Homo sapiens: one gene and its partners. The protein of the gene in region 6 purifies or fractionates together with the protein of the main gene of each other region. This does not show direct contact. Each region holds a gene or a part of one and is shown on either strand. Other genes may lie near its edges.

Evidence for each region.
Region 1: the proteins of DEF8 (region 6) and MCM8 purify together in Homo sapiens (affinity purification with mass spectrometry; 2 studies listed by BioGRID and IntAct, with this or other methods). This does not show direct contact.
Region 2: the proteins of DEF8 (region 6) and APAF1 purify together in Homo sapiens (affinity purification with mass spectrometry; 2 studies listed by BioGRID and IntAct, with this or other methods). This does not show direct contact.
Region 3: the proteins of DEF8 (region 6) and WDFY3 purify together in Homo sapiens (affinity purification with mass spectrometry; 2 studies listed by BioGRID and IntAct, with this or other methods). This does not show direct contact.
Region 4: the proteins of DEF8 (region 6) and ATG2B purify together in Homo sapiens (affinity purification with mass spectrometry; 2 studies listed by BioGRID and IntAct, with this or other methods). This does not show direct contact.
Region 5: the proteins of DEF8 (region 6) and ALMS1 purify together in Homo sapiens (affinity purification with mass spectrometry; 2 studies listed by BioGRID and IntAct, with this or other methods). This does not show direct contact.
Region 7: the proteins of DEF8 (region 6) and EIF2AK4 purify together in Homo sapiens (affinity purification with mass spectrometry; 2 studies listed by BioGRID and IntAct, with this or other methods). This does not show direct contact.

The regions. Positions count from the first base shown.
Region 1 is NC_000020.11:5,967,652-5,971,151, forward strand, and holds part of MCM8 (DNA helicase MCM8), read left to right. Parts: intron 1-178; coding exon 179-374; intron 375-3,500. UniProt on the Homo sapiens protein: Component of the MCM8-MCM9 complex, a complex involved in the repair of double-stranded DNA breaks (DBSs) and DNA interstrand cross-links (ICLs) by homologous recombination (HR).
Region 2 is NC_000012.12:98,665,790-98,669,289, forward strand, and holds part of APAF1 (apoptotic protease-activating factor 1), read left to right. Parts: coding exon 1-2; intron 3-400; coding exon 401-568; intron 569-1,723; coding exon 1,724-1,855; intron 1,856-3,500. UniProt on the Homo sapiens protein: Oligomeric Apaf-1 mediates the cytochrome c-dependent autocatalytic activation of pro-caspase-9 (Apaf-3), leading to the activation of caspase-3 and apoptosis. This activation requires ATP. Isoform 6 is less effective in inducing apoptosis.
Region 3 is NC_000004.12:84,963,891-84,968,172, forward strand, and holds the start of WDFY3 (WD repeat and FYVE domain-containing protein 3), read right to left. Parts: upstream 2,801-4,282; 5' UTR 2,319-2,800; intron 1,969-2,318; exon of another isoform or gene 1,726-1,968; intron 1-1,725. UniProt on the Homo sapiens protein: Required for selective macroautophagy (aggrephagy). Acts as an adapter protein by linking specific proteins destined for degradation to the core autophagic machinery members, such as the ATG5-ATG12-ATG16L E3-like ligase, SQSTM1 and LC3.
Region 4 is NC_000014.9:96,314,842-96,318,341, reverse strand, and holds part of ATG2B (autophagy-related protein 2 homolog B), read left to right. Parts: intron 1-486; coding exon 487-644; intron 645-1,024; coding exon 1,025-1,197; intron 1,198-1,658; coding exon 1,659-1,809; intron 1,810-2,758; coding exon 2,759-2,958; intron 2,959-3,107; coding exon 3,108-3,188; intron 3,189-3,500. UniProt on the Homo sapiens protein: Lipid transfer protein required for both autophagosome formation and regulation of lipid droplet morphology and dispersion.
Region 5 is NC_000002.12:73,392,336-73,395,835, forward strand, and holds part of ALMS1 (centrosome-associated protein ALMS1), read left to right. Parts: intron 1-3,500. UniProt on the Homo sapiens protein: Involved in PCM1-dependent intracellular transport. Required, directly or indirectly, for the localization of NCAPD2 to the proximal ends of centrioles.
Region 6 is NC_000016.10:89,958,755-89,962,254, reverse strand, and holds part of DEF8 (differentially expressed in FDCP 8 homolog), read right to left. Parts: intron 3,242-3,500; coding exon 3,100-3,241; coding exon of another isoform or gene 3,020-3,099; exon of another isoform or gene 2,889-3,019; intron 1,325-2,888; coding exon 1,160-1,324; intron 519-1,159; coding exon 391-518; intron 244-390; coding exon 130-243; intron 1-129. UniProt on the Homo sapiens protein: Positively regulates lysosome peripheral distribution and ruffled border formation in osteoclasts. Involved in bone resorption.
Region 7 is NC_000015.10:39,932,910-39,936,914, reverse strand, and holds the start of EIF2AK4 (eIF-2-alpha kinase GCN2), read right to left. Parts: upstream 2,801-4,005; 5' UTR 2,720-2,800; coding exon 2,576-2,719; intron 1-2,575. UniProt on the Homo sapiens protein: Metabolic-stress sensing protein kinase that phosphorylates the alpha subunit of eukaryotic translation initiation factor 2 (EIF2S1/eIF-2-alpha) in response to low amino acid availability.

The DNA of each region.
Region 1 (3,500 bases), on a different chromosome or scaffold from region 6:
AGATGCTCCTGAACCTCAAATAATTTGAGGAATTTCTTGTTGCTTACATAAGATGAAACATTCCCTTTTAAAAAAACATGTATTTGTAGCTCCCTATGACTTTGTTTTATATTCTAGTTGAGTCATTGTAGGGAAAATGAAAATACCAACTATTGTATTTAACACTTTTAATTTACAGGTTCTCGAAATAAGAATGACAAGTGTATGTTCCTTTTGTATATTGAAGCAAATTCTATTAGTAATAGCAAAGGACAGAAAACAAAGAGTTCTGAGGATGGGTGTAAGCATGGAATGTTGATGGAGTTCTCACTTAAAGACCTTTATGCCATCCAAGAGATTCAAGCTGAAGAAAACCTGTTTAAACTCATTGTCAAGTATGTATGCTGTCATTTGAAATTTTATTACATAGATGCATGTTGGGGGTTCTCTTGGCTACAGGTAACAAAAAACTAGTCAAAATGGTCGGCAAACTACAGTCCATGTACCAAATACAGTACTCCATCCCCTTGAGTATGGCCTATGAACTAAGAATGGTTTTTATATTTTTTAATGGTTGAAATAAATTAAAAGAATATTTCACAACACATGAACTTATATGAAATTCAGATTTCAACTGGATATGGTGGCTCACGCCTGTAATCCCAGCACTTTGGGAGGCCGAGGCAGGCGGATCACTTGAGGTCGGGAGTTCGAGACCAGCCTGGCCAACATGGTGAAACCCTGTCTCTACTAAAAATACAAAAATTGGCCGGGCTTGGTGGCGGGCGCCTGTAATCCTAGCTACTCGGGAGGCTGAAGTGAAGAATCACTTGAACCCGGGAGATGGAGATTGCAGTGAGCCAAGATCGTGCCATTGCACTCCAGCCTGGGCAACAAGAGTGAAACTCTGTCTTTAAAAAAAAAAAAATTCTGATTTCAGTGTCCATAAATAAAGTTCTATTGGAACATAGCCACACTCATTCATTTACATAAGTGTGCTGCTTTTGTGCTACAGTGGCAGAGTTGAATAGTTGTGACAGAGAACATATATATGGCTCACATATTTTTGCTTTATCCTTTTATAGAAAAAATTTGCTGATCTCTAGTTTAAACAATACAGAATATTTACTATCTTATACAAGAAGTTTGTCACTCAACGGAAGAGTGAGGGAACAGTGAATTCCAAAGCCATTTCAATTAGTTCTGTGTAGGGTGTTGCTCATAGAGATTCAAATCGAATTAACATATATTCAAAAAGTATTTGATAATTTTATTTCCATGCTATTGCCATGCCGTGGAGAAGCAGCAAAGTATAGGCATTTTTTGCTTTAGTGGTTAAGAGCTTTTCTTTGGAGACAAACCTAAGTTAGACTCCTGCTTTGGGCATTTACTTCCAGTGTGATCTGGGACATATTACTTAATTTCCCCTTTATTTGTATCACCTTAAAATGGAAATAATAAGACTTACCTCAGAAGGTTGTTCTAAAGATTAAGTGGGATTTTATAATGTACTTAACATAACTACTGCAACATACTGTTACTTTTGATAATTTTTTGACAACTGTGGGGTAATTTTGAAGAAATAGGAGAAAATGAGAGAGACTGAATAATAGATATATCTAAGAGAGGTAAAGAACTGAGAACGTTTTGAAATGCATTGTATTATAAAAAGTGATCTTGGCCAGGCACAGTGGCTCAAGCCCGTAATCCCAGCACTTTGGGAGGCCGAGGCGGGTGGATCACCTGAGGTCAGGAGTTCGAGACCAACCGGACCAATATGGTGAAACCCTGTCTCTACTAAAAATAGAAAAATTAGCTGGGCATGATGGCAGGTGCCTGTAATCCTAGCTTCCTGGGTGGCTGAGACAGGAGAATCTCTTGAACCTGGGAGGCGGAGGTTGCAGTGATCTGAAATCGCGCCACTGCACTCCAGCCTGAGCAACAGAGCAAGACTCTGTCTCACAAAAAAAAAAAAAAAAAGTGATTTTGTCATGCTTTTCTGTTCAGTAGGCTCAGGTCTGTAAGAGGATTTGATGCTTTTTCTTTCTGGCTTTAATATGTTAATTAGCTGACTGAGTAAAGAATAGTGCTCCACAGGGGTTTTTTGTCCTTAAATCCTACTTCCCTCTGAATAAAAGCCATTCAGACCCACCCTGGAAGAGAGGCTGCTCTAACTTAGCGTTGCTGGGGTGGTCTTGGAGTGAGTCCTTTGAGCAGGTGGCCAAGGAAGCAACCTGGTCGACAATCCAAACATCTTTGGTTCCTCTTAACAGTTGTAAATTAAAACTGAACATTTTTAGTGGTCCCTCTTCTCCCATACTTATAGAAGAGTAAGTATGGAAAACTTTAGTTTTCTTCCCACAGTTTGCTTTTTCCCCCTCCATGTTTGTGATTTCAGCATCAAAACTAGAATTTTTCATGGTCCTCTATTATCAGTCTAGCAGAGATTGGCAAACTAGGCAGGCTGCCTGTTTTTGTAAGTCAAATTTTATTAAAACACAGCCCCACCCAGTTTACTTACATTACTGTTCACAGTTGCTTGCACACTACAAGTTGAATAGTTGTGACTGAGACAGTATAGCCTGTGAAGCTGAAAATACTTTCTGGCCCTTTAAGAAAAAGTTTGTCAACCCAGCCTAGGTGACAGTAGAAGTTTATGTTTTAGTTTAGGTTCCTTCAGAAGCAATGATTTGGATCAACATAGTTTACTTGGGAGGTGATTCTGGAGTTACTGGTAGGGAAATGATGGCAGCCAGTGTAGGTGCCTTAACGAACAGGTGACCCACTAGCATCTGGGACATAATCCTCCTGGGCCAGTGGAAAACTCCACTGTGGAAAGCCAGCTTCAGTATTTTTCCATTTAAGGGCCTACATTTGGGACTGCCCCCAGGAGTATTAAACACCTCAGCACTTCTGGCCTGCCCATCCTGCCTGCCAATGATGCTTGTGTGGCCATAGAAAGGTCTTTGGCAGACAGGTGCAGATGCCAGTAGGAAGCCGGAACATACTGAACAGTGAGTGCCAAGGGGATATGAGCACACCACCACCTCCTTCTGTGTTTACATATATTAAAAGGGAATAAAGACTCATGTTTTACTCCTGATTTTCTCTCCCACCCTATTTTTGTTTGTTCCTTGTTTATAAAATTGACAAATGTAAATGTACTGTTTTATATTCTTTCTCTTAATTTTTTTTAGAGACAGGGTCTTGCTGTGTTGCCCAGGCTGGATTGCCGTGGCACAATCAGAGCTCACTGTAGCTTCAAACTCCTGGCCTTAAGTTATTCTCCCACCTCAGCCTCACAAGTAGCTAGGACTAAAGGTGTATGCCACCATGGCTGGCTAATTTTTAATTTTTTTTTTTATAGATATCGGGGTCTCACTTTGTTGCACAGGCTAGTTTTGAACTTTTGGGCTGAAGCAGTTCTTCCACCTTGGCCTCCCAGAGTGCTTGCTGGGATTACAGGCATGAACCTGTAAACCAAAAATAAAATTCCAAGGCCCCCCACCCATTTAAACAGA
Region 2 (3,500 bases), on a different chromosome or scaffold from region 6:
AGGTAATGGGATCAATGATCCTCATCATTGGGTATTTATTGCATGTAAGCTTTGATATAGTACTGAGCATGTTGTTACAGAGAACCTTGGAAGGATAAGACCCAGGGGACTGAGGTGGTGGGGTGTTGGGTGTAGAAATCCCTCTGCTGTTAGCTTCCATTAAGGGCTTTGTGTTGAACTCAGGAGTTAACCTATTTCTGTGGTTCTAGTGCAGCTGAAGAAGCATCTGACTTCTCTTTCTCTTTTCTATCTTGAGGAGTAGCTGAGTTTCTTCTTAAGAAATGGAGACATTCTTACTCAGGGCTTTAAGATACCGTTTTTTTGTGTGTGTGATAATACCTGTCTACAGTCCTGGTCATTGTACTTTTGTGGCATATTAAATACTTACAACAATTCCTAGGTGTTATGTATTCTCTGGGACATGGAAACTGAAGAAGTTGAAGACATACTGCAGGAGTTTGTAAATAAGTCTCTTTTATTCTGTGATCGGAATGGAAAGTCGTTTCGTTATTATTTACATGATCTTCAAGTAGATTTTCTTACAGAGAAGAATTGCAGCCAGCTTCAGGTACTTGCATCTTGGTTTACTTTTTTTTTTCCTTTTTCCTTTGAAATAATTTTAGATTTATTGAAAATTTACAAAATAGTAGATAGTTTCTGTGCATAAGTCCTTCACCTAGCTTCCCCTAATATTAACATTTTATATAACCATAGTACAGTTGTTAAAGCCAGAAAATTAACATTGATACAATACTGTTCACTAACCTACGTGTTCTTTTTGTAGTCCAGGCCAATTTAGGATCCCGTATTGCATATGATTGTCTTGTTTCCCTACTTGTCATTTTTTTCCGTCTCCTCAAATCTGTGAAAATTTATCAGTCTTTATCTTTCATGGCCTTGTCACCTTTGAAGAGTACTGGCTAGTAATTTTGTACAGTATACCCAAATTTGGTTTTGTGTGATGTTTTTCCTGACTAGATTGAAGTTATAGATATTTGGCAAGAATACCAATGATGTTGTATCTTTCTCAGTGGCGTCATAGGCTGAGAGTACTTGGTGGTTTTTAAAAAATTTTTTGTAGAGATAGTGTTTTGCCATGTTGCCCAGGCTGTTCTTGAACTCCTGGGCTCAAGTGATCCACCTGTCTTGGCCTCCCAAAGTGCTGAGATTGTAGGTATGAGCCACTATTCCCAGACTCCTGGTGTTGATATGTTTTATTATGGGTGATGTTAATGTTGATAATTTGTTTAAAGTGGTATCTGCCAGGTTTCTGCACTGTAAAGTCATTATTTTGTGGGGAGATTCTCTGTATATATATATGTATTTTTTTTTTTTTGAGACAGGGTCTTACTGTGTTGCCCAGGCTGGCATGCAGTGGCTCACTGCAATCTTAAACTCCTGGGCTCGGTTGGTCCTGAGTAGCTAATTCCCGAGTAGTTGGGTCTGCAGGCATATGCCACCACACCTGACTGATTTTTTTTATTTTTTATTTTTTGTAAAAAAATTAAATATACGGATATCTCTCTATGTTGCCCAGGCTAGTCTCGAAGTCCTGGCCTCAAGTGATCCTCCTACCTTGGCCTCCCAAAGTGCTGGGATTACAGGCGTGAGCCACCGAGCCCGGCCTCTCTGTACATTCTTAATAGCTTTGGAAGCTGAAGTTACTGTGATGCTTAGGTTATAAAATTGTTTCTGGCTTCTGAAACGTTTCATTGGGTTGCAGGATCTACATAAGAAGATAATCACTCAGTTTCAGAGATATCACCAGCCGCATACTCTTTCACCAGATCAGGAAGACTGTATGTATTGGTACAACTTTCTGGCCTATCACATGGCCAGTGCCAAGATGCACAAGGTAAGATGACCCATTTAAAAATTCTTTTATCTGACTTCCCTTTTTCCATATGTATTACAAATAAGTGCTTTTTTTCTGTTATTTTTTGTCTTGAATTTTGTTCATATTGCTTTCCATTTGATTTTTTTTTTTTTTTTTTTTTTTTGAGACAGGGTCTCACTTTGTTTCTCAGGCTGGAGTGCAGTGGCACAATCTCAGCTCATTACACCCTCACCTCCTGGGCTCAAGTGATCCTCCCACTTCAGCCCCCCATGTAGCTGGGACTATAGGCACATGCCACCATGCCTGGCTAATATTTTTGTATTTTTGGTGGAGATGGGGTTTCACTATGTTGCTCAGGCTGGTCTCAAACTCCTGAGCTTGACGTGAGCTCAAGTGATCCACTCGCTTCAGCCTCCCAAAGTGTTAGGAGTACAGGCATGAGCCACCGCGGCTGGCTGAAGATTTGAATTTTTATGTAGTTAAATTTACCACTGTTGTTGTCGTCGTTGTTTGGTATTTTGCTTTGCTGTCCTGTTCATAAACATGTATTGTTTTATTAGTATAATTTTTTATTAGTAAAAATGGGATTATAGCTTGCATAATTATTTTTGTTTTTACCTGTAGTGATTAGAAAAGGTACCTTAGTAACTAGTAAATGAACCACCTCAGAATTAATCCTCTTCTTACTAGTAGCTTTCCTTTTTGGGCAGTATGGATTTGTTTTGTAAGCTTTGAGAGGAAATGGATAGTGGAAAAGTATATTCATTGATTCAATAAATATTTATTGAGTGCTTGTTATGTATATTGCTCTTCATTAAGAGGATAAAGCACAGGCACAAAGTCATTGCTCTCACGAGTTTATGTTCTGGGAGGAGGCAGACATTAAACAAATTTATTATATTTCAGTGGGTAGTTAAGTGCTCAGAAGAAGGACAGAGCATGGAAGGGGAAAGAAAGTGATGATAGAGGGGTAGAATCATCATGATTTGCTTATGGGTTTGGTATGCATTATACGAGAAAGAGAAGAATCAAAGATGACTCCAAGAATCAAAGATGACTCAAACCCCAGTGGAAAGAACGGAGTCCATGAACTGAAACAGGGGTCTTTGGGAGAACAAGCTTTTTCCTGCAGAGAATGGGGATGGTTAAGAACTCATTTTGGATATATTAAGTCTGATATACCTATTAAGGCATCTGGCTGGAAATATTGAATAGGCAGTTAGATATATGAGTCTAGAATTCTGGGGAGAATTATAGATGAAAGATGAAAATAAGGAATTATTAGCACATAGATGGTATTTGATTGAAGTCATGACTACCAAGTAGCTACTAAAAATGTTTACATTTGGAAAACCATATGTACTTTCAGTAAATTTTCTATGCTCAGGTATGTTATTTCTTGGTTATGATACATAGTAAATTGTTGTAGTTTGTTTTTTTATCTAGCAAAATATATTTACATTTAATAGTGTATATTGGAATGATGGTATTCCAATAAATACTTGTGCCCTAATTTACTTAACCAAACTCTAGTTATCGAACATTTAGGTTTTCAGTTTTTTTGGTCCTTATGATGTAATGAGCATTCTTGTTTATCTTTGTACCTATGTTGTTTCCTTGGCAAATTCCGAGAAGTAGAATTACTGAGCCAATGCATCTTTTT
Region 3 (4,282 bases), on a different chromosome or scaffold from region 6:
GAAACAACGTCTATGTGCTGAACTCTTAATCACAAACATTTCTTGGGCATAATCAGAAATGAAGGACATAAATCATCAAATGTAATTTAAAAATTTTAGCTTTCCAAATATGGAATATGTATTCTTTAATTTTATATCTAGAAGTTCATAATCTTTTACAGACCCATATCCTTTTGAGAATGTGATCACCCAACAGAGTCTTTATCTAGGAAAAAAGCAAATATATGCTATATTCTGCATATGATTTCTGGGAAGCCAAGGACCCTCAGAAGTATATGCATGAAATTAAGAAAGAAGCAGGGCATGGTGGCTCACATCTGTAATCCCAGCACTTAGAGAGGCTAAGGCAGGAGGATCACTTGAGGCCAGGAGTTCAAGATCAGCCTGAGCAACACAGGGAGACCCTCATCTCTACAAAAAATAGAAAAATTAGACAGGCATGGTGGCATGCACATGTAGTCCTAACTTCTTGGGAGGCTGTGGGAGAAGGATCACTCGGGCCCAGAAGTTCAAGGCTGCAGTGAACCGTGATCGTGCCACTACACCCCAGCCTGGGCAACAGGGCAAGACCCTGTCTCTAAAAAAAGAAATAAATAAATAAATTAAGAACAACTGATGTAAACTTTTAAAATTGCAAAGTTGAGCAGTGGAATTTAAGAATCTCTTCAAAGCAGAGAATCCAACTAATATTGAAATATACTGTCATTTACTTTTTCAAAAACAGATTATGCAAGAGTAGAACATTGTATTTTCTAACTTATCCCTCCTTTTTGGAGGTGATACAAATTTTTTGAAACATTTTTTTTTTTCTTTACAAAAATTGTTTTCTCTTTGTTGCCCAGGCTGGTCTCTAACTCCTGGCCTCAAGTGATCCCCCAGCCTTGGCCTCCCAAAGTGCTGGAATGACAGGCATGACCCACTGTGACCCACCAAAAGCATACATATATTTCAGATGAATCCATTTTAACTCATGGAAAGAAACTAGCAGTAGAAACCTCTTTCTAGCAGCTTGAGATAGAATGGTTCAAAGTATTAACATACTTTACTATTGCTCAAATATCATAGGAAGAGTTCTCAATTCTAATGCAATATATATTTTTAAACATAAAAACATACCAACCTAATTCCTATACTTAAGAGTCTCATGATAAAGTTTTATTTTTTTTAAAGTCGGATTTTTTTACTAGACTTATGCACTAATACAACATGTTTTTCTATAAATTAGCACATTTTTAGTTCTGTTTTATGTTATGTTTGTTACGTCGCCTGATAGTCGAAACCAGTTGTTCTCAACCTGCTACCAAATACCAACCTGGAAATATGCCACTATTTAAAAAGCCCGAAGAATAGGGTTTTGTTTTTCCTTTTTAATTGTTTGGTGTTCAAACTACATAGTAAACCAGTTGGCAACCATTACTGAACAAAAATAGTTTTTCGTATGCATGAGCACCATTTTCCAACAGAAAACACTTAACCATTTTTAAGGTACTGGAAGTCCATGCAAGGGTTCACATATGCAGTAAATATCCTTTCAATCTGGTTGTATCACATTGTTTCTGTGAAAGGAAGACCTGATATTGCAGATCTCACAATTAAATGGTAAAAATCAATGAAAAACTGCACCTGAGGCTCAAACACTAGCCAGATGGCCTTTGGTTGGAAAGGTCTCATCTGCTTCTTAAATCCCGCCGTAACTGTGAATGTTTGCGATGCCACCACATCCCCAGTACAAGAGAACTGGAGCATCTCTGGCTCCTTCCATAATCGAAGGGCTTCCAGCGTAGGGCGTAGGGGGAGAGGCCCGAAGCCCTGGAGACAGCGCCCGAGGGATGGAGGCCGCGCTCGGCTGCGCTCAGGTCCGGGTGGCTCCGGGAGCTGAGACCCCGCAGGATGCAGCGGGGGGGGGCCAGGGCCTGATCCCCTACCCCTGCGAGCCAGGGCCGCCTACGCCCCCACTGCTTCCCACAGGTAACGTCCAGCCCTCTCCTCCCCTATCCCCCGAAATATCCCGGTTCCGCTCCGCTCCGCTCGCCGCCCGTGACCCCGACCCCGACCCGTCCGCGACGGCGCCCTCCCCAGGAGGCAGCGGAGGACTAGGGCCAGGCCGCCCACCCTGGCGGCGGCGGCGGCTCCCGGCCAAGGCGGACCCTGGGGAGGACAGCAGCTGGGCCGCGGCCTGTCCCTAGGGGGAGCGGGCGCAGGGCCGCGAGTGGGCAGCGCCTCCGCCCCGCACGAACAAAGCGGCCAGGCGCGCCGGGCCGAGGCAGCACCGCCTCTCCGGGAGCGCGGGGGGCGGGGAGGATGGCGGGGGTACTCACCTGAGGGCCGGCGGAGGGCGCGGGCGGGACAGGCCCAGGAGACGGGACCGCGGCGGGCCGGGGCTCCGCGCCGAGGGCGCACGGGCTACGGGGAAGGGGCGACCGGCGCGACGTCCGCGGCGGGGCCCGGGAGCCCCGCGCCGCGGGCCGGGGGCCGGGGCCCGAGCTCGATTCTGCGGCCGCGAGGTATGGGAACCGGTCCGCCGGGCCAGGCAGCGGTGCTAGGCAGCAGGGGCAGCGACGCCGCCGCCTTTCCCTTCTCCTGCCCCCGTCCCTGCTCCGCCGCGTCCTCGTCCTCGCTGGGTCCCCGCCGCCGCCGCCTCAGCCTCGGCGCTCCTCGGGTTTCTTCTCTCCATCAAGGCCGGGCCGACCCGCAGGGACCATCCCGGAAAGTGAGGGGTTGTTGCCGTTTCCCGCAGCTGTTGGTGGCCATCTTTAATCCTCCTCCTCCTCCTGCTTTCTCCACCTCCCGCTGGCTGTCTGACTGACTGACTGGATCCTCCTCTTTCCCCTCCTGCTCCTCCTACTGAGCCGGCCGCAGAAATTGCAGCCGCTCAGCTTCTACCCCCTCCTGCCTTTCCTTCCTCTTTCCTTACTTCCTTCCCTTCCCTCGGCTTCCCGCTCTTGCCTCACTCTCAGCGGCTGCCTTCGCCCCTGTCTGCAGACAGCGCCGCTGGATGCTCCCAGCTGGACTTCAACCCCACTCCTCTCAGTCCCTCTCCCCACTGCCTTCCAGACGCGCCTCTTCCCCGCCCCGCGCCCCTCTCTCCTCTCCCACCCCTGCCCCTCTCCGCGGCGCTCACCCTCCTCAGTCCCAGTTTCTGAAAGGACTCAGCTGAGAAAGGACAACTGGGTTCCGCTTTCCTTAACCCTACACCCTTTAGCTGGATGCTGTCAGAGGCGATGGAGAAACGCAAAGGTGCGTTAATTTTACTCTAGCCAGAGTATAAAAGAACTGCCCACGCCAGCTATTGTACTACGCAGCTTCGAAACTCCTGCACGCTCTCCTGTGTGGCTCCCGTCCGTGATGGGACTGTAGTTGAGGAGCTCGGTCTCAAATGGTGCCTTCCGTCAGTGACCTTGAGTCGGTTGCCTAAGATTTTAGATTTTCCTTTTCCTTCCTGGGAGGGGCATTATTTATACCTTTGCAGTCCCACAAACAGTGTTTAGACCAAATAAGTATCCTTTAGTAAACCTAGAACTGCCAAGTGATCATCATTTTGCCCGTTTGTTCCTACTCAACCCAGCAGACAATTTGGGTCACGCTTCAGTTCTGGCAGTAAAGACAAACTGAGTCAGCAGTTAGGAGTGGACTCCCTTAAACAACAGAGTTAGAGTGGGGAAGTGGTCATAACATCGCTGTAATCACAAACTTGTTTTTCCTAACACTGCAATCTACAGAAGTTTCAGGATTTCCTCTAATAAACATAAGGCAAGTTGGATTTGCTGTTTTCTTCTTTTTGACGATTTTGCCTTTAGAGTTGGACCCATTTGTAATGATTTACTCGTCAATTACTCCAAGATAACAAAGTTGGAGGTAACATTGCTAACAAACACAGGTGATATATATGAGCACTTTGTGGGGGGGGGGTGTCACAGTTTTTCTTCTGTGGGGCACTGGCTATTAAAAAAAAAAAACACCTTGCCCTTTCAAAATAAGACTAGTGTGTTCAAAGGTTAGTCCCTTAAACAGACCAAATGTGGGCAGAAATGTTTTTAAATGTAGTTTTAGATTCTACTTCAAAATGAGTAATGTTTTGAAAGTTCAAATATAAGATTTTGTAATTATAACAATTTAAGAGTTTCAAATCTCTTTGAAAAGAATATGCCAAAACAAACCTAAAAATATATTTTAGTAAAAATACCGGTATCCTTTGGTGGGGGGCGGAGCAGAATTCTAATATTTAATCCTCACGAAGTAACCTTAATTAACTGTTAGGTTCAAGATTTCAGTTGCCATCTTT
Region 4 (3,500 bases), on a different chromosome or scaffold from region 6:
GGTGTAAAGTGAGAATAATGATTCTGCCCTGGACACCCCACAGGACTGAGGGGAGGGTCAGTGAGATGATGCAGGATCAGTTCCAGTTTACAAAGTGCTCTCATATAGGTGAGCCGTCCTCCTTTTCTGTTCTTTGTGGGTTTTTATTTTTCATGAGCTTCTGTTTCTAAGGTATATTTTGAAATGTAATATGAATTTGTAATTTGATGTATATAACATAGGTAAAATTAGGCAAGTATCTATTTAGGTATCTAATTGTGCAGATTCTTTTGTCACTGCCCTGCATTATAGCCATATCAGTTATTTTTTCATTGAAAGAATGCAGTTGTTATTTTTGTTGTTTTTCCAAATTCTTGTAGGATCTAATTTCCATTTTGCCGTTTAAAAAATTATTGTTCATACGATCTTTTAAAAGGATTTTTTTTTAAGTTTGCCTTCTGTTGAACTAGGAGTTAAGTACTTATTTTTCAACTTTTGTCTTTATAGGATCTTTAATGACTTGCTACTGTGGGAACCAACAGCTCCTTCACCAGTGGAGACATTCGAGAATATTTCCTATGGCATTGGGCTTTCAGTAGCCAGTCAGCTCATTAATACTTTCAACAAAGATAGTTTTAGTGCATTTAAATCTGCAGTTCACTATGGTAATATATTTTTAATTTGTTTTGATTTAAAATGCCTAGTTTATCAATTAACAAAGTACTAACCTTTGAATTGTGGATTTAAAAATCTTTATGTTTCATTGTAACTATATTTTGCAATTTCTTTTAGTAATTTATAAGAATATTTCCTTATTTCTATCTGTATATTGAGAATATCATTATCACTTAAATATGTTCTCTTTAGAATGATAGTGTGCACATTGTTTGAAGTTCAAAGCTAAAGAGAAAAACAGTATGTATTTCTGTGTTCACACCATATTCTTTGTAAAACTAAGCAGGTTATATAAAATATTTTCATGATCATTTTTATGTTGCTGTTTTAATATGCTATCAGAATGTAATTGTATGTTTATTTCTCATAGATGAGGAAAGTGGATCTGAGGAGGAGACTTTGCAGTATTTTTCCACTGTTGATCCCAACTATCGTTCTCGCAGGAAAAAAAAATTAGACTCTCAGAACAAGAACTCTCAGAGTTTTCTCTCAGTTCTTCTGAATATTAATCATGGATTAATAGCAGTGTTCACAGATGTGAAGGTGAGGTTTACAAATCCGAAGTGTTTTTTCAAATGTATCTTACTTTAAATAAATCTGCTAGGATACATATCTAGTGATTGAAGTATTTGATATTTTGAAGTTGTTTCAGGGACTGATGAAGACCAGTGTCCTGGGGCAAACCATGATGATAGCAACTTTGGGGATTTAGCTTTCGTTGCAGATCAAACTTTGTGGGGCTCTCCCTTTGGAAAACAGGTGCTAATTCTGCTTCTGGGGTGACAACAAAGTACAGAGATTCATCTGATAGAAGAGGTTCCACATAGCATTTAAGTTATCCAGTTTTATTTTATACCATGATATTGAATAGTTCAAGGATTAGACTGCTTTGCTGCAGTATGGGAGATTTTCCTAAGCTGAATCAACAAAGAGCATCTCAAGGAACATGCTTACTTTTCTGCATTTAAGTAATAACTTCTGTGTTTTTCTGATCTTTTTACTAGCAAGATAATGGAGATCTGTTGGAAAACAAGCATGGTGAATTCTGGTTAGAGTTCAATAGTGGTTCATTATTTTGTGTGACAAAATATGAAGGTTTTGATGACAAGCACTACATTTGCCTTCATTCTAGCAGTTTCAGTCTGTACCATAAAGGTAGGACAAACACGTGTCTTGGTTTCTTCTCTTTAGACATGTTTAAATTTCTTGTTTAACAAAGAAAATCTATTGAGAACAGAACTTTGGTATTAGAAATTATTTTCTGTGGAGGGCTCTCATTCTGCTGTCAAAGTAATATTTACAAATTAGAAGTCAACTTCAGGTTCTTTTTTTGCAATAGCTTTGTTGAGGTATAATTCACACACCATACTCATTTAAAGTGTACCTTTCAGTGGTTTTTAGTATTTCACAAGAGTTATGCAACCGTCACCATAGTCAATTTTAAAACATGTTTATTACCCCATGAAGAAATTTCATACACTTTAGTGATAAACTTTCACCCCTTCCGCTCTCTCCTTCCCGTAAACACACTAACCTACACTCTGTTTCTATGGATTTGCATATTCAGAAGTTTCTTATAAATGGAATCATACAATATTTGGCCTTTTTGACTGGCTTCTTTCATTTGACACGCTTTCAAAGTTCATCCAAGTTGTATCTGTACTTCATTCCTTTTTATTGCCAAATAATATTCCACTGTAAAGATAGATCACATCTTATGTATCCATTCATCAGTCGATGGGACTATATGTTCTTTATTCTTCTTTAAGGAATATTTCCTTTTGGTTCCAGATATAGAACCTACCATTTTTTGAGCAGTTACCTGAGTTTACCTTGTTTCATAGACATGAGATGTTTGTGATAGTTTTCTATTTAATTTTCCTAGCATTTCAGAATCTTTTGTTTCTTTAAGCTGTGTACGGTCAGTCACACTAACATTAGCAAAGAGGAGTGGATTATTAATGCCATGCTGGTTTTTGTCATCATGCCTCCTTAAGTTATATTCAGTGGAAGTACGTGGATTTTTGTTTTGAGTCATGTAAGTTGATTAGCTAATTTCAAGTAATCATTTTGTTACTATTTTTACCTCAATGTGGATCTCTAGGCATAGTGAATGGAGTGATTCTCCCGACAGAAACACGACTTCCCAGCTCAACCCGCCCACACTGGTTGGAACCTACTATTTATTCCTCTGAAGAAGATGGCCTCAGTAAAACTTCTTCAGATGGAGTTGGAGGAGACAGTTTGAATATGCTGTCTGTTGCCGTTAAAATATTGTCTGATAAATCAGAGTCCAATACAAAGGTTTGTGTTTTGTACTTTTATGCCACTGTTGATTTGATTCTAGCTAAAAATAATTACATAAAAGGCAACATATTTATTTTCTTGGAAAAACTTTTGAGTTATAGGATTACATAGGTGGTAAATGTCATTCTTTGTCTTGTTCTGTATAGGAATTTCTCATTGCCGTAGGACTGAAAGGAGCCACTCTCCAGCATAGAATGCTTCCTTCTGGGCTTAGCTGGCATGAGCAGGTAAGAGAGCTGTTATATATGTATTAATTTATTTAAAAATTTGTGTTGACATCTAATACACATACTGAAAAGTTTGTAAGTCATAAATGTTCAGCTCAGTGAATTATCATTAAGTGAATACTACGGTGTCACCACCTTTTAGGTTAAGAAATAGAACAGTATTGGCCGGGCACGGTGGCTCATGCCTGTAATCCCAGCACTTTGGGAAGCCAAGGCAGGTGGATCACCTGAGGTCAGGAGTTCGAGCCCAGCTTGGTCAATCCCGTCTCTACTAAAAATACAAAAATTAGCTGGGCGTGGTGGAATGCACCT
Region 5 (3,500 bases), on a different chromosome or scaffold from region 6:
ACATTTTAATAGCTTTTTTGAGATATCATTCATATACTGTACAATTCACCTTTAATTTAAAGTGCACAATTCAGTCATTTTCTGTATATTCATAGATATGTGCCATCATGATCACGGTCAATTTTAGAACATTTTATCACTTCTAAAAGAAACCCCATACACTTTAGCTGATATCCCCCGTCTTCCATTCCCCATATGCAACTATTAATCTACCTTCTGTCTATAGATTTACCTATTTTGGGCATTTCATATAAATGGAATGATATGTGTTTTTGTGACTGGGCTTCTTTCACTTAGCTTAATGGTTTCAGGATTCACCTGTGATGTGGCATGTATCAGTACTTCATTACTTTATATGGCTGAATAATATTTTATTATATGGATATGTGATATTTTGTATATCCATTCATCAGTTGATGGACATGTTTTTTTTCCTCCTTTTTGGCTATTATGTATAATGCTACCGTAGACATTCTTATATAAGTGTATGTGTGGACATATGGATTCATTTCTCTTGGATGTATATCTAGGAGTAGAATTTTTGGGACATATGGAATTCTGTTAACCTTTTAAGTTTCTGCCAGATTGTTTTCCAAAGTGGCCTTCCTATTAGCAGTGTATGAGAGTTCCAGTTTCTCCACATCCTTATCAGCACTTGTTATTACCTGACTTTTTTGTAGTTTTGATTTGCATTTCCCTTATGGTTCATGCATCTATTCATGTGCTTCTTGGCCATTTGTGTGTCTTCTTTGGAGAAATATCTATTCAGGTCAAACTTTTGCCCATTCTTTAATTGGGTTATTTGTCTATTTACTATTGGATTGTAAGAATTCTTTATATATATGCATATTACATATATAATCCCTTATCAATCAAGGGATTGACAAGATACAGTCCCTTGACAAATGTGAGGTCATGAGGACCTACTATGTTTTCTTTGAGATTTTATAGTATTGCTATTACATGTAGGTCTTTGATCCATTTTGAGTTAATTTTTGTATACGATATGAAGAAAGGGTTCAAACTTTATTCTTTCGTATGTGACTATCCAGCACTGTTTTTTTTTTTAAATTTTATTGATTTGTGTAAATTTATAGAGTTCAAGTATAATTTTGTTACATTGATATATTGCATAGCGGTAAAGTCAGGGCTTTTAGTGTATCCATCACTGGAGTAGCCTACGTTGTACTCATTAAGTAATTTCTCTTCATCCACCCCACTCTCACACTCCCCACCCTTCCAAGATTCCACTCTCTGTCATTCCATACTCTGCTTCCACATGTACTTGTTGTTTAGCTCCCACTTGGAAGAATAGGCAGTTTGTCTTTCTGCAGCACCATTTGTTAAAGAGGCTGTTCTTTTCCCCATTGATTGGTCTTAGTACCCTTGTAGAAAATCAGTTAGCCATAGATATATGGGTTTATTTCTGGATTCCCAATTCTATTTCATTGATCTATATGCCCACCTTATTCCAGGAAACACTTTTTTTTTTTTTTTTCTGAGATAGGTGTCTCTTTGTTGCCCAGGCTGGAGTGCATGCAGTGGTGCAATCTCGGCTCACTGCAACCTCCACCTCCTGGGCTCAAGTGGACCTCCTATCTCAGCCTACCAAGTAGCTGGAACTACAGGCACATGCCACCATGCCTGGCTAATTTTTGTAGGTTTTGTAGGGATGGAATCTCACCATGTTGCCCAGGCTGGTCTCAAACTCTTGGGCTAAAGCCATCTGCCCACCTCGGCCTCTCAATGTGCTGGGATTACAGGCGTGAGCCACCATGCCTGACTAGGAGACACTCTTTTGATTAATATTGCTTTATAGTAAGTTTTGAAATGGGGGAGTTCTCCAACTTTGCTTTCCTTTTTCAAGATATTTTAGCCATTCTGGAGCCCCTTGCAATTCCATATGAATTTTAGATTAGCTTGTCAGTTTCTGCAAAGAAGCCAGCTAGTATTTTGATAGAGATTGTGATGAATCTGTAGATCAATTTGGGAGTATGGTCATCTTGATATTAAATCATCTGGTCCTTTTTTTTGTTGTTGTTGAGATGGTGTCTTGCCCAGGCTGGAGTGCAGTGGTGCAATCTCAGCTCACTGAAACCTCTGCCTCCTGGGTTCAAGCAGTTCTCCTGCCTCAGCCTCCAGTAACTGGGATTACAGATGCACACCACCATCCCTGGTTTATTTTTGTATTTTTAGTGGAGACGGGGTTTCACCATGTTGACCAGGCTGGTCTCGAACTCCTGACTTCAAGTGATCCACCTGCCTTGGCCTCTCAAAGTGCTGGGATTGCAGGCGTGAGCCACCGTGCCTGGCCTAATCATCTGGTTCATGAACATGGGATATCCTTTCATTTATAGTTGTGTCAATTAATGATGAGGATACATTCTGAGAAATGTTTCATTACAGTATTTCATTGTTGTGCAAACATCATATAGTGTACGTACACAAACCTAGATGGCATAGCCTACTACACACCTAGGCTATATAGTCTAACTGTTTGCTCCTAGGCTACAAACCTGTACAGCATGTTACAGTACTGAATACTGTAGGCAGTTGTAACACTGTGGTAAGTATTTGTGTTGGATACGTTTGTGTATCTAACACAAATACTTAGAAAAGGTATAGTAAAAATATGGTATTTTACATATATATGTGTATATATATATGTGTATATATATGTGTATATATATGTGTATATATATGTGTGTGTATATATATATATGTGTATATATATATATATATATTTTTTTTTTTTTTTTTTTTTGAGACAGAGTCTCGCTCTGTCACCGAGGCTGGAGTGCAGTGACACAATCTCCGCCCACTGCAACCACCGCTTCCCAGGCTCAAGTGATTCTCATGTCAGCCTCCTGAGTAGCTGGGATTACAGGTGTGTGCCACCATGCCTGGCTAATTTTTGTATTTTTAGTAGAGATGGGGTTTTGTCATGTTGCCTAGGCTGGTCCCGAACTCCTGACTCAAGTGATCTGCCCACCTTGGCCTCCCAAAGTGCTGGGATTAGAGGTGTGAGCCACCATGCTGGGCCGGTATTATAATCTTATAGGACCACCATTATGTATGTGGTCTGTAGTTGATGGAAATGTTCTGATGTGGCATACAACTGTAATTAGATCTTCTTTAAATTTCAATAATGTTTTATAGTTTTCAGAATTGCACTTTTTTTCTTAAATTCTTCAAAATACTGTTTTTAATGGTATTGTCAGTGGAATTATTTTTCTTAATTGAATGTTTGGGTTATTCGTTGTAGATGTTTAAAAACACTTGATTTTTATATATATTAATATTGTTTCTGAATCTCTTCTGAACTTGTTTATTCATCCTAGTAGATTATTTGTGGGTTCTCTATGATTTTCTTGTAAAGATCATGTCAAGGGCAAATATATATAGCTTTATTTTTTCTTTCCAATCTGGATGCCTTTTATGTATTTATTTATGGCTAATTGCCCTGGCTAGAACCTTTAGTAAAATATTCAATAGGAGGG
Region 6 (3,500 bases):
CCTAAGCAGGTGGCCTCCCTCCTCTGCTCAGAACCTCCCGTGGCCCAGAGGAGAAGAGGGTACTGGCCCGGCCCTAGGGCCCACCTGACACAGCGCCCCCGCCCCCCACTTCCATGGCCCCAGCCTCACGCGAATCTCCACCAGCTCCTCCACGTAGCTGAACAGCAGAGGGTTGATCTCCCGGAGCCTGAGTACGGGCCGAGACACCATCAGCGCCAGGTAGCGCATGCTGCAGCGAGAAACCTGCCAGGCACGGCCGGGTGACACCTCTCACACCCACCCAGGGCCCGTGCAGCGGGCAACACCCAACCAGGGGTACACCGGCTCCACACCCCAACCCCCTTCCTGCTCTCCCTCCCCAGGGGGATGCCCCCACCTTCCAACCCCCACCTTTCGAGGCTCAAAGTCCCAGTTGTGTACAACGCGTGCAGGGATCACAGCCAGGTCGTTCCAGTGGCAGTGGCTGCAGTAGTACTGGCCGGTGTAGTCGCACTGCCTGGCCTCACTGGGCACACCCCCTGCAGGGTCAGAGGGGCCCTGAGTGTCCCTGCCTCACAAAAACCCCACACAGCTTTCCAGCCTCATGGTCTGTCCTCCCATGGACCACAGCCCTCGGGGAGACATGGGAACATGTCCTATCCTCAGCCGGAAGACCTCAGGTGGTCCCAGCGTCTCACTGACCTGTTCTCTTATCAGTAAAATGGGATATAAACAGGGCCTCACTGTAGGACCGAGGCAGGGACTTCATGAATTAACACCAGCAACTCTCTAGAAAGAAGAGCTGACGCGCACATGTGCACAACTGGGCGACAACCGTGTACTCTCCCTAGACCCCGTCTATGAGGCTTTCTGTGCTGTGTGACTTCTCCCTAGTCCTCATCTATGAGGCTTTCACACGGGGAGGCGGAGGCCAGGTCCCAGCCCTCCAGGTGCTCCTCAGTGACCTGGGTGAGTCACGGAACGGCTGGAACCTCAGTCTGCTTCAGTGAGAAATGAAACAATGGCAGCAACAGACCCTTGTCACTTCCTAAAGATATCAAGCAGGCACTGCCCCAGGGCCTCACTCAACTGTCTGACTTACGTGCCCTTACACACCTGTGCACCCGGCTCCCCGCCAGGAACAGCTCCCTCACCCTCTTCTCTCCCTGCCACCACTCACGCAGAGAGATGGGCGCCCGGCACTCGGCACAGCGGTAATCCTGGCTGTCCAGCCCTGTCTCAGGGCAGATGTTCAGTTCGTATTCAGCTTGGTGGCTGACTTTGGAGCTCACACAGGGCTTGGAGATGAGGTTCAAGCACTTACTGTGACAGCGGTAATAACACCCTAGGGTGGAGGGACACACACTTCTCAAAAGCGGGAAGGGTGCGCCTGCAGCCCAGGCCACCCTCAGCTGGCTTGCCCCCTCCCCGTGGGTTCCACTCTGAGGCCCAGATCAATCTAAGACCTCCTGGCACCAAGGGAGGCCTTAGAACCTCAAAGATCCTTTTCTCCCTGGCCCCTGAGCCTTGCCCCAAAGGTGGCCCAGACCTTGTCCTCCAACTTGACTCACATGTTTGGGGCCAACCTGCCACTCCCACCACCAGACCCAACCTGTCCAAATGTAACAAACGAAACTCCCACCCCCGACCCCAAGCCCCTCAGCTTCCCCATCTCGGTTTCAGCAGCTCCACCCTTTCAATATCATGAGTTATCCTGAAGGGTTTCTCTCTCTCTGTTTTTGTTGTTGTTGTTTTTGTACTTTTTAAGAGACAGGGTCTTGCTCTTTTGCCCAGGCTGGAGTGTAGTCGTGCAATCAGAGCTCACTGCAGCCTCAGACTCCAGGGCCCAAGCGATCCTCCCATCTTTGCACTGGAAAACCCTAGGATTACAGGCGTGAGCCACCGCACTCAGTCAGACTATTTTCTAATCTGTTACATTCCGTTTCCAAACCTTCAGCTGGACTGCCCTTAGCGACTCCTCACTCCCACCACCTACCCCAGCCCAATCAGAGTCATCCCCCTCTTCTCAGTCACCTCCCTCTCAGTCCAAGCTCAGTCAGCAGCCACAGTAACCTATTAAAGCTCAAGTATGTCCAGCACCCACTTGTGGCCCCCACTGCACTTAAAGAAAAGCCCCAGCCACCTCTGAGCCCACCTCCCCCAGAAACAGAACTGCAGCCCCACCTGGCTCTCTGCTCCTCCTTATATCAACCACAGGGCTGCCCCCACCGGAACATTCCTCCAGACACAGAGCTGCAGCCACACCTGGCTCTCTGCTCCTCCTTATATCAACCACAGCACTGTCCCCACCGGAACAGTCCTCCAGACACAAAGCTGCAGCCACACCTGGCTCTCTGCTCCTCCTTAAGGCACTGGACACATCAACCACAGGGCTGCCCCCACCAGAACATTCCTCCAGACATATTGTCTTGGCTTGCTCCCTGACCTTCAAGTTTTTGCTTAAAAGTCACGTGACGCCGGCTGGGCGTGGTGGCTCACGCCTGTAATCCCAGCACTTTGGGAGGCCGAGGTGGACGGAACACAAGATCAGGAGATAGAGACCATCCTGGCTAACACGGTGAAACCCCGTCTCTACTAAAAAAAATACAAAAAATTAGCCGGGCGTGGTGGCGGGCACCTGTAGTCCCAGCTACTCAGGAGGCTGAGGCAGGAGAACGGTGTGAACCCGGGAGGTGGAGCTTGCAGTGAGCTGAGATTGCACCACTGCACTCCAGCCTGGGCGATTGAGTGAGACTCCGTCTCAAAAACAAAACCAAACCAAAAACAAACAAAAACAAAAAACAAAGTCACGTGATGCCTTTACATTCTGCCCTAAAGTCACATTCACTCCACCCTAACACGTGCTAGGTCCTTTCCCTTTTTCTTCATTGTACAAACTAGACACACCATGTAATTCACTAGTTTAATTTCTCATCCAGAACAGCCCTGTCCAATGTAGACAGTACAACGAGGAAATGCATATTTAGTTAATTTAACTTTGACTGGCCATGTTTGGCTAGTGGCCACCACACTGGATAGCTCACATCTGAATGTGAGCCCAGCGGAGGCAGGAACTTTGGTCTCTCTCATTCCTCACTCCTCGTCTGGGTCTCGGCCCACCTGTGCAGGTGTACCAGGTCTGAATGAGCCCCCAGATGATGGTGTTACACTTGTCACAGGTCTGCTTGACGCTCTTGCTCTTCTCCTTGTAAAAGCGGTGCTCAAGGAGCACTCGGATGTTTGGCTCATCCTCATTGGGGTCCTGCAGAGGGTGAGTCAGGGAGGGGGTCACAGGTGAGCTGGGCTGAAGTTCCTTTCCCTTCGCACAAGCCCCTCAACTTATTTCTTCCAGGCACCATTTAGGGCAGAGATTGTGAGTTTCAGCACAATGCCATGTCCCTTTTCTCCCTTTCACAGTAAACAATGATCAGCTGGACAAGGACCGCCAAGGTCACATGCTACCTTTCCCAGCATCCCTTGCGACCTTTCCCAGCATCCCTTGCAGCGAGGGGCTGTGTGGG
Region 7 (4,005 bases), on a different chromosome or scaffold from region 6:
AGCCTGAACTGACATGAGGTTAGTTATAGTGTTTATTTGTTCAGTGTGAAATTTGAGTATTTCTATGTTTCATTGTGTTTGATTTTCGATGCTGCCCCAGACACTGAGGAAGGTATTAGGTAATGTGTGGAATGTGCACACATAAACGTGAACAGAAGCACTTCTGAATTCTGAAACCCATCAAGTCTCAAGAGTTTTGGATAAAAGGCTGGGCACGGTGGCTCACACCTGTAATCCCAGGACTTTGGGAGGCGAGGCGGGAGGACTTGAGGTCAGGAATTCGAGACCAGCCTGGCCAACATAATGAAACTCCATCTCTACTAAAAATACAAAAATTAGCCAGGTGTGGAGGCGGGTACCTGTAATCCCAGCTGCTCAGGAGGCTGAGGCACAAGAATCGCTTGAACCTGGGAGGTGGAGGTTGCAGTGAGCCGAGATTGCTCCACCGCACTCCAGCCCGGGCGACAGAGAGAAACTCCCTCTCAATAAAGAGTTTTGGATAAAGGATTTTGGACCTGCATCACTTTTCCCTGGCAAATAGCAGGTGATAATAAGTGCTTGTTGAATGACTAAACTCTGATTCATCCTTGAGACCATCAATTATTTGCCTGCCAGTCCTATGAATGTGTTGAGGCCATTTGCCCGGTGTACAATAGGCCACAGACAGCTATTTAAATTCTTCTGCCTGCCTTCTATAGTTTTTGCTTTGGTTTGTCTAGTATTCCATCTTGTTATGAAAGCCACCAGCTATAAATTCTTGAGGTTATCAATATCCCTACCTAAAAGAAGTTGCTTTTTCTCTTCCATTTTTCTGCAGCCCTAGGAGCAGACAACTAAGCTTGTATAAAGTAAACAAACTAGTTCAGAATGAAGCCTTAGGAGCTTTGTGTTGAGTCCCATGTACACTTTGAGACACCTATTTTGGCTGCTTCTTGGGCCTACTTCCTGATTCTCAAGGTTTGGGAAGATAGAAGTTCCCCAGTCACCAACTTCTCTGTCATGTTAAGGGGAATAATTTATATTTTTACCATTTCAGGTTAAAAATAACTTCATATTATTAAGCATTAGAAAAGTAAGCTCCCTGAGGGCAAGGATTTTTGTCTGTTTTGCCCACAGCTGTATTCCTAATGCCTAAAACAAATATTTAATGAAGGAAGAAGCACCCTGAGTTTGAGAGAGAATATTTTGTCCTGATAGCTCCAGAAGATGGTATTTCTTGAGGAAATCCTGGATGTGTAGATAGAGCAGATGTTGTGAAATGCCAAAGTTAAAAGCAGATGAAGAGGCCAGGCGCGGTGGCCCACACCTGTAATCCCAGCACTTTCAGAGGCCAAGGTGAGAGGATTGCATGAGCTCAGGAACTTGATACCAGCCCGGGCAACAGAGCAAGACTCTGTCTCTACAAAAAATTAAAAAAATTAACCAGGTGTAGTGGCATGTGCCTGTAGTCCCAGGTACTTGACAGGCTGAGGCAGAAGGATTGCTTGAGAATAAGCTGCAGTGAGCCGTGGTCATGCCTCTGCACTCCAGCTTGGGAGACAGAGCAAGACCCTGTCTCAAAAAGAAAAAAAAAAAAAGCAGATGAAGTTAGAACTATGTTTTAAATGATAATATGATAATATTCAGAAATAGTTTGGTAGATCAACTCTTCAAGGATGGGGAAAAAACTGTCAGTATAAATACTTTATAACGTGCCTTAATTTCCAGACAAAAAGGCAAAATATTATTTTAAACAAAATGCCATTTTAAAAGGTCTAGAGCTAGAGCAAGCTGGTCTAACCCGAGGCCCATGGGCCGCTTTGAATGTGGCCCAACACGCATTCGTAAACTTTCTTAAAACATTGAGGTTTTTTTGCGAATTTTTTTTTTCTTTTAGGTCATCAGCTATCCTTAGTGTTAGTGTATTTTGTGTGTGGCCCAGGGAAGCCAAAAGATTGGACACTCCTTCTCTAGACTCAGTCTAGAACCCTCTCTCTACTACAGCTAAGATGAATGTGTGCTTTATTCTGAGCTAAATGTCTTAGAGGAAGGTGCAGAGGTATGGAAAGTTCCTCCATACCGGAAAACACAGTGAGGATGCCTGGGGAGTACAGAGGGAATTATGTGGCGTGCAGATTTGAATGCATGGATGAGACTTGAGAATTCTGATTGAGGACGTAAGGCCTGTGCGAGAGCCCAAAAAGCGTTCTCAGAACAAAGTAGCAAGGGGCGCGTATGAATTGCTGTGGTATCATCCGCAAGGGCTTTCAGAGGGGAAAAAGGACAAGGTTGGAAGGAGGCAGTTATGTTATGGGATGTAGGCAGGAATAAGAAGCAGTGCCAGGTAAGAGGGAGGAATCCAGGGGGATTCCTCTGGGGAAATCATGGGGAAAGGACTGTAGAAGAATTCGGCCTAGGTGGGATTCTGCAGACCAGCTGCAGGTGCAAGGACTAAAGTGAGCATGGGTGGAACCTAAGGGATGAAAAGACTGCAGGATCCTAAAGCGGCGGCCCAATCTGGAAGTGTCCGGGCTTTGGCCCAGGGCCCGGGGAGGCCAGGGCACGCCAGCCCGGGCCTGACAAGCCACGTTCCTACCGGTCCGCAAGCGTCCGGCCGCAGGTCTTGGAAGTCCGCGCCGTAAATGGCCTCCAGGGCCTGTAGCTCGTGGTCCTGTCGTTGCGGGTAGCTCTCCGGAGGCTCGTCCCGGCCGCGCCCGGGGGCCCCACGGCCCCCAGCCATGGCAGCGCTGCGCCCAAGGCAGGGCGGCCTTGCCTGGGCGGCGGTGGGCCCCCGGCAGCCTGCGGGGCGGGGCTCCGCGCTGGGGACGGGCTATGGGCGGTGTTCCACGCTGGAAACGGGCTCGTGGGCGGGGTTCCGCGCCGGGGACGGGCCGTAGGCGGAGCTCCGCGCCGGGAGCTAGCTCCGGAGGCTCCAGAAGCCCAGGCGAAGGAAGAAGGCAGGGGGACAGCTTTGCCCACATCCTGCTGGGGGAAGGGGAGCAAAGGAACTCCACGAACTTAAGAAATGAATCACAGATAGGAATGAAAACGCCACATTGTATAGTTTTCACGAAACAAGTATCTTTAACAGAAGTGCTTGCTGGAACTTCTCCACCCTGGCATGGCTAGTGCGGGAAACTCTTTTTTCTTTTTTTTGGCAGAGTTTCGGCTCTTGTTCCCCAGGCTGGAGTGCAGTGGCGCGATCTCGGCTCACTGCAACTTCCGCCTGCCGGGTTCACGCGATTCTCCTGCGTCAGCCTCCAGAGTAGCTGGGACTACAGGCGCGCACCACCACGCCCGGCTAATTTTTCTATTTTTAGTAGAGATGGTGTTTCACCATGTTGGCCAAGATGTTCTCGATCTCCTGACCTTGTGATCCGCCCGCCTCGGCCTTCCAAAGTGCTGGGATTACAGGCATGAGCCACCGCGCCCGGCCGGGAAACTCTTAAAGGGCAGACGTCGATGGGTTCTGAGGTCACTTCTAATTTCACCTTGTACCTTCCCAGAACAAGACTACCGGGAGTAAAAATTGTGACCCCCCCCACCCTCCTTCCTCCCACTTTAGTACCCCCAAACTTATTCTCTGAGCCACAGATTCAACACCCTCATTATGTTCTCTGTCTCTACATTCCCCAGCTTTGGGGATCTCCACTACCACCTTGCAAATTCAATTGAAAACTGTCTTTCCACTCAGGCATCTTTATGAGCTACCTTCCCATGAAGAGAATCATGTTCCCTTCCCAGTTCACTCAGTGTGAATTTAGGGAGTCTTTGTGTTATATCCTGCCTCAAGTCGTCGTTTTTCAAGTTTATAAAATAATAACCTGTCTACCCAGACATTGTTATTGCACTTCATCTTCAGTAACTTACTAATGCTGCATGTCCATTTCGAATAATCCTATTGTACTAACCCAAGTTAGGTTTAAGTGACGTTTCTTCTGTCTACCTTGCTTACTCCTCCACTGTTCACTAAATAATGATTGTGTAAATTCCTTGCTGCCATCTATCCACTCATTTCTGGCCAGA